Linked DNA regions of Homo sapiens. The protein of the gene in region 2 interacts with the protein of the main gene of each other region in a biochemical or structural test. Each region holds a gene or a part of one and is shown on either strand. Other genes may lie near its edges.

What was found. Proteins that work in one complex are often made in the same cells at the same time.
Region 1: the proteins of RXRA (region 2) and BRD8 form a complex in vitro, tested with the Homo sapiens proteins (one study listed by BioGRID).

What each region holds. Positions count from the first base shown.
Region 1 is NC_000005.10:138,151,131-138,154,630, forward strand, and holds part of BRD8 (bromodomain-containing protein 8), read right to left. Parts: intron 1,631-3,500; coding exon 1,352-1,630; intron 1-1,351. UniProt on the Homo sapiens protein: May act as a coactivator during transcriptional activation by hormone-activated nuclear receptors (NR). Isoform 2 stimulates transcriptional activation by AR/DHTR, ESR1/NR3A1, RXRA/NR2B1 and THRB/ERBA2.
Region 2 is NC_000009.12:134,437,770-134,441,085, reverse strand, and holds the end of RXRA (retinoic acid receptor RXR-alpha), read right to left. Parts: 3' UTR 501-3,316; downstream 1-500. UniProt on the Homo sapiens protein: Receptor for retinoic acid that acts as a transcription factor.

The DNA of each region.
Region 1 (3,500 bases), on a different chromosome or scaffold from region 2:
TTAATACAATCATCTAAAATCTGCCAAAATATCTTATATACACAGGCACTGGGCTGGTTGGTGGGGACACTACAGTGAACAAGAAAGATATGGTTCTTGCCTCTTCCAGGAGTTTATGTTCTACTTTTTCATCTCAGCTGTCAACTCTGATCAATTGGGAGTGGCTGTCTAGAATAAAGTGTTGAAAATTTTGTCTACCACAGACACTTGTAGAGAGAAGTGGCAACATTTGAAATGGATGCTTGCTGATCTTGATCTAGGGTCTTCTAAATGTGTTCAATAACAGCATACATATAACTCTCTGTCCAATTCTGTTTATTTCTGGTCCTCAGCCCTTAACCAAGGTAATGACACTTAAAAATACTACCTTAAAGTTACAGCATTTTAAGCTTCAAGGAAAATTTGGGCAAGTATAACTTCCCACAACTCCAAAAGCATGAATTACAAGGATACTCATAAAGCAGTCCTTATGACCCAGGCCCCTAATGACTGAAGTATTAGAAATTCAGTCAAAAAGCATGTATTTTTTTATTTTTAATTTTTTTACTTTTGAGACGGAGTCTCGCTCTGTTACCTAGGCTGGAGTCCAATGGCACGATCTCAGCTCACTGCAACTTCCGCCTCCCGGGTTCAAGCGATTCTCCTGCCTCAGCCTCCCAGGTAGCTGGGATTACAGGCACATGCCACCAAGCCCGGCTAATTTTTTAATTTTAATTTTAATTTTAATTAATTTATTTATTTAGAGACAGAGTTTCGCTCTGTCGCCCAGGCTGGAGTGCAATGGTGTGATCTCAGCTCACTGCAACCTCCGCCTCTCAGGTTCAAGTGATTCTCCTGCCTCAGCCTCCCGAGCAGCTGGGATTACAGGCGCCCGCCACCACGCCCGGCTAATTTTTTGTATTTTTAGTAGAGATGGGGTTTCACCATGTTGGCCAGGCTGGTCTTGAACTCCTGACCTCAAGTGATCCGCCCGCCTCGGCCTCCTAAAGTGCTGGGATTACAGGCATGAGCCACTGCGCCCGGCCATTTTTGTATTTTTAGTAGAGATGGGGTTTCACCATGTTGGCCAGGCTGGTCTCGAACTCCCAACCTCAAGTGATCCACTGGCCTCAGCCTCCCAAAGTGCTGGGATTACAGGCGTGAGCCACTGCACCCGGCCCAAAAAGCATGTATTTGGTGCATATTCTGTATCAGCACCAAGTGCTGAGGACATAGCAATGAACTTAATCCCTGCCACTGTGGAGCTTATATTTTAGTAAACAATATTAAGAGTGGTAGAAGCATGTAAGGATAAGCATTCTCTTAGAAAGTTGAGGCTTTTCCAGCTTTGGAAATAAGAGCTCACTGTTACCTCAGAGAGAAAGTGGAGGAGGTTCTGGTGGCTGGCTTTCCTTGCCGCTTCCTGAGATTCCTCACTGCCTCCATCCCCAACAAGCAGTTCACTAGGTTCTCTCTCCGGGCTGCTTTCCTCTAGTTCCTCAGCCTCTGGATCCTCAGTTTCCCTCCAGTTGCCCACATCAAGATCCAGACTGGAGTCCCATGAGCTGAAGAGGGACCTGCAGTCATTGCTCAACTCAGAGTCATTGGGATGATCTTGTTCAGAATCCAGCCAAACCCACTCGTGTCCCATCTGTAAATACACAGGAAAACATGCATTAAATTCATTCAAATAAATATTCCTGAGGCATCTCCATCTCCCGAGTTCAGTAGAAAAATAAGGGGCCAGAAATTTATTTGTATTCAAGTATTCATCATTAGGAAGAATTAAAATCTTGCTGAAGGGAGACATGAGATGAAATTATATTTGTCTTTGGGAATAAAGAAAGCCCCATGTCAGTATAACAGAGATATTGCACCATACAATACAGTATAATAGAGACATTAATATTACCTAATAATTATTTTTACTTGGAATTCCTCATATTCACACCAAAAGAAGGGAAAGAACTGGAGCATAGCTAGCTCAATTATTTTCCTCTAGCCCAAATCATCCATAACTAAACCGTAAGGCAAACAAATTGAGGGGGCAGGGGATATTTTCCTCAGTGTATAAACATTTTTAACCTATGAACCATTAAACCTTCAAAACACACTTTAGGATTGCCTTTGGCATCCTTCTGGTCATATCCAAATTGATGTTGAGAAACATTAAGCTTAAAATATATCTTCCCTTGCTCTCATTACACCACTATCTTGGTTTTTTTATATCTTTCTTTGTCCTCTCCCTTTTACAACTTTCAATAAATCCCTACCTTCTATGTTCATGCTTGGTCCTCTGCTTTCTTATTAATGTATTTTAAAAAAATGTATATATACTTTGAGGTTTCAACTTTGACCTCTATTCAGGTGGCTCCCAAATCTCTCTACCTTTACTTCTTATATGAATTCTGGTGTCATTTCTCCATGCATCCAAAAGTCAATTCCCTTTAGATGCTCTACCACCTGCTGTAACATTTCTAAAATAAAAATCACATTTCCTTTATCTCCAAAATCACTGCTTCTTCCCAATTTCCTTATCCCCATCACCATTTTCTTTTCTTTTCTTTTTTTTTTTTTTTTTTTTTGAACGAACTTTCACTCTTGTTGCCCAGGCTGGAGCACAATGGCCCAATCTCGGCTCACTGCAACCTCTGCTTCCTGGGTTCAAGCAATTCTCCTGCCTCAGCCTCCTGAGTAGCTGAGATTACAGGTGCCCACCACCATGCCCGGCTAATTTTTGTATATTTATAGAGACGGGGTTTCACCATGTTGACTAGGCTGGTCTTGAACTTCTGACCTCAGGGGATCCACCCACCTTTGCCTCCCAAAGTGCTGGGATTACAGGCGTGAGCCACCACACCCGACCCCATCACCATTTTCTTAGTCTACAGAACCCACAATTCTGTTTTGACCCTTCCTTCTCTTATATTCAGTAAGCAAGTCCTCTTCCCAGTTTTCTCCCACAATAAGTTTTCTCAGTGTCCATCCTTTCCTGAATAAATGCCATAGTCTCCTAGTCAGCTTTTCTATCTTTAATCCTATCTGCTCTCAACAAATATAGTTATTCTACTCAAGGCTTTATAACAGCTATCACCTCAAATATAAATTTCTCAATCTGCCAAAGTCCTCCACAAATTTAGCCTTATTTTGTTCCCTTCACTCACATGTACACCTCCTTATTCCTTAGTATAATCCCTGTTCTAATTACATTTTTCTCCGTATTGCCACCCACCACCCCCACCAGATGCCTACACCTTCCATTCGGTTTGCTAGTCTCATTTATCACCTTCTCTACCAACTCAAAACGTATGTCCTTTAATGGACCTTTTCCACACACTTCTCCCAGCTTTTAGAGCTTGTGTTTGTATCTCATGCCTGTTTGCAGACTGCTTTGGGACTACAATGTTATTTTTTATTTTCCTTTCTTGTTTGCAACATGTCCATGTAACAAGGAATTTCATGTTCTAACTCCTGGACTAATTGAATACCTTTCCATTGCCTCACAAAGACTGTATCTTCTC
Region 2 (3,316 bases):
CATGAGAGGGCTCCGGGCACGAAGACCAAACCAGGCCGGGAGCAGCCCAGCCCCAGACAGCATGGAGACAGAGGGCGTTTATCACAGGAGACAATGCAGATGGGGCATCATTAACTTGTTGTTATTGGGGCAGCTGGGTGACATCGTGTGTTCCTTGGCCCTCTGGGTGCACCTCCTGCCCATCTGGGCCAGCGTGGCTGCAGAGGCGTGGATGCTTAGGCAGCCTGGGGAGGGACAGGTGGGAACACTCGTGCTCCGCAGGCGCCCACAGGCCCAGTGCCCACGGCTGCTGAGAGGTGCCCTCACGGAGGCCCCAGCCCCCTGCCCCTTGGAGGAGCAGCAGAGCCCAGTGGACAGGGAGAGAACTCTCAAGAGTATGGCCCACAGAGGATGCCAGCCTCGCCGCACAGGACCGGCAGGTAGGGTGGACAGGAGGGTGGGCTGGTGGGGGCTGATCGCGGGCCCTCCCGCTCCAAACAAAAAAGTCCCCACACGGAACAAACGAACTGAATGGCGATGTATTTTAAACGCTCATATTTTGTTTCTCCTCTCACACTTCTCCCTTTGCGTGTTCCTTTTCCACAATTCTAATGCTACTGTCCATCAAACCCTGGCACCTGAGGCCACGATGTTTCAGAGACAATCGTACGGAGAAGCCACTTCACAGTCAGTCACAGGAAGGCCAGAGCCGGCAACAGGACACAACAGAGCAAGGCTTTAAAAATTACTCGAAAGGGAAGAAAACCCTTGAAAGCCTCAGGCCCACCCTCCTGCCCCGAGGGAAGACACCCCCATTGCGGCGGTTTCCTCCCAAGCCTCGCCGCCGTCACAGGAGCCCTCTCCTCTGCCATCGTCTGTCCTGGCGTTTCTCGGACGAAGCTTTCACCTCAATCTCTAGAAGCAGAAACGAAACAGTCCCAGCCCTCCCCCCGCCATATCCAAGTATACATGAGGGATAAAATTACATTTGTACAAAAATAGATTTTTTTTTTTTACCTTTCCAGATGCTTTAGACATTTTCTCTTATCTTTACTCTCTTTATGGATCTGTCATCCTCTCTAAAGTATTAGCTATGCGTCCCAGCTAAGGCATTGCTAAGGATTGGGAACGGCTAAAGCTGTCTGCTCCAAAGCATCTTAAAATAGATGCATCTCCTGCCTTGAGATATTCATTCGAACCCGGATTTCACCAAAGGAGGGTCCTTATGTACTTGCTTACACGAAGCAAATTTATAGGAAAACAGGGGAAACGTCTTGATTAAAAATAAACACAAAACACTGGTAACCGCTCCGCCTTTCCTGGGTGGCGCTGGTGTGCGGCTCTCTCCACACGCGTCTCTCTGTACAGCACATACATGTTTACACCACACACCTGCGTGGACGAGCACCAGATCACGCACCCCAGCTCCACGACAGGGACACCAGCCGACTACCCACAGGCTGCACATTCCGGCAGGGCCCTCCTGGGTGCCCCACGGGGAGGGGCTCGGGGTCATCTCCAGCACTGCCACCAGGCCGCCAGCCCAGAATTCTTGGGAAACACCGTGCTCGGAAAACCGAAGGTCAGGGCTGTCCTTCCCAGAGGCCGTGTGCTTCCAGGGTGCGGAGGGCCGGCGGCTGACACAGGCCCCAGGGTGGAAGGTCCTGGCAGGCCAGCTTCCAAGCATGCCCGACGCAGCCTAGGGGAGCCCGGCTCTGTGGCATCTTCACTCCTGAGCCTCAGGAGCCCCATCTGAACGGCAAAGCCGGGAGGTGACCAGCTGAGGAGCGTGCCTGAAGGTGCCGGGGTGCCCTGGGTCCCCAGGAAGCAGCCACTGGGAAGTGGGGGCCCTGCGGGGAAGCCGCTTCATCCAGCCGGGCCAAGGCGGGGACAGGCACAGGTGGCTAATGAGCTGATGTTAGTGCTATCTTTAGAAAATTAAAGATTGTCCCACCAAAATAATAATAATTACAAAAAATCACCTTAATTGAACTGGATTGGTAATACTACTACAGGTCTGGTTAAATAGAAATTCTACCTCTCTACTCAGTGATGAGCCGCACTCCCCACACATCACCTTTTCAAACCAACAGCACTGTACAACTACAAGGCCGATGAGAAAGGGACGGGAAGGCTGCGGGAAGTGCCCGGGACACGTAGAGCGGTGGGTAAGGCTGCTGTGGCCAGGGAGGCCAGGTTCTGCTTTCAGGGGTTGGCGGCCGGGGGGCTTCAGTGCTTTACAGCCAGCCAGCCAGCCAGCCAGCGCCGGAAACGACAAAGTTCCCAAGAAGCAGCCGACCCCCCGCAACGGAGGCCCCGTCCCTGGGCTTTTTCCTCTGGAGCCGCGGGCATTCCCAAGGGTCCGGGCACGGATGGGTGGGCGCTGGCTGCAGAAGGCACCAGGTGTTGGCGTTGGGTCTTTTGCACTCCCACCGCTGGGGCCCCAAGAGTACCTGCACCCTCCTGCCATTTCCACCACACCCGCCAGGGGCAGCTGGGGCTTCCTGGCAGTGCCTGGGAGGGGCCCAGCTGGCCGGGGACCTGGTACAGGTATGAGGCTCAACACTCTGCCTCAGGACGGTGGATCGGGCAGGGGGCCACCTCTAGGGATCCACAACGCTGAAAGGCAGGGGTGGAGGGCGGCGGGGAGGAGAGGCTTCTGGAATCTCTGACAGCCTGTCTCGGGCACAGACTCAGCTGCAGGCTCCACTCGGGTGCCTAAGCTCAGCTCTGGCTGGGAGCTCCAGGAAGGCAAAGAATGGACACTTTCTTCCCCACCAAGGCTGGAAAGCTGCCTCTCCAAGCCACTGCCTCCCGGTCCAACCTGTAGGCAGCTCCCCTCACCACTGAGGAAGCCCCTGCTCCAGGTGGGGAAAGACTATGGAGAAGGCGTCCACCCCCCCGCATCATTCCTAGACTGCGGCTGGGAAGACAAGACCCCCTCCGGTATCCCCCCCATCCACCCTCTGTTCAGGCACCTGCCACTGACAAAGGCTGGGTCCACGGGACTGAGGCGTGAACGGGAAAAGTACTCAGGCCAAAGGGAGGGCCTTCCAGTGCAAAAGAGGCGAGTTCAACCTGAGAGGGCCCCGCACCACCGGAGCCCGGGGGCAGAGCCTGCGGGAGGAGCGCCAGGCCGCACTGGGCTGAGCCAGGGAGGCCCCAAGCCCCGCCCCCACCCCACCTTCAACCAGAGCAGGCGTTCAGTGAGGCTCCCAAGTAAGGCTCTGGGTGAACAACGCTGTCCGTGGACAATACCAGGCTGGGTGGTCCCACCAGGGCCTGCGTGTGGCCCAGGCCCGAGGGCGCTGCGACTCCGGGTTCTCAGATTCCAAGA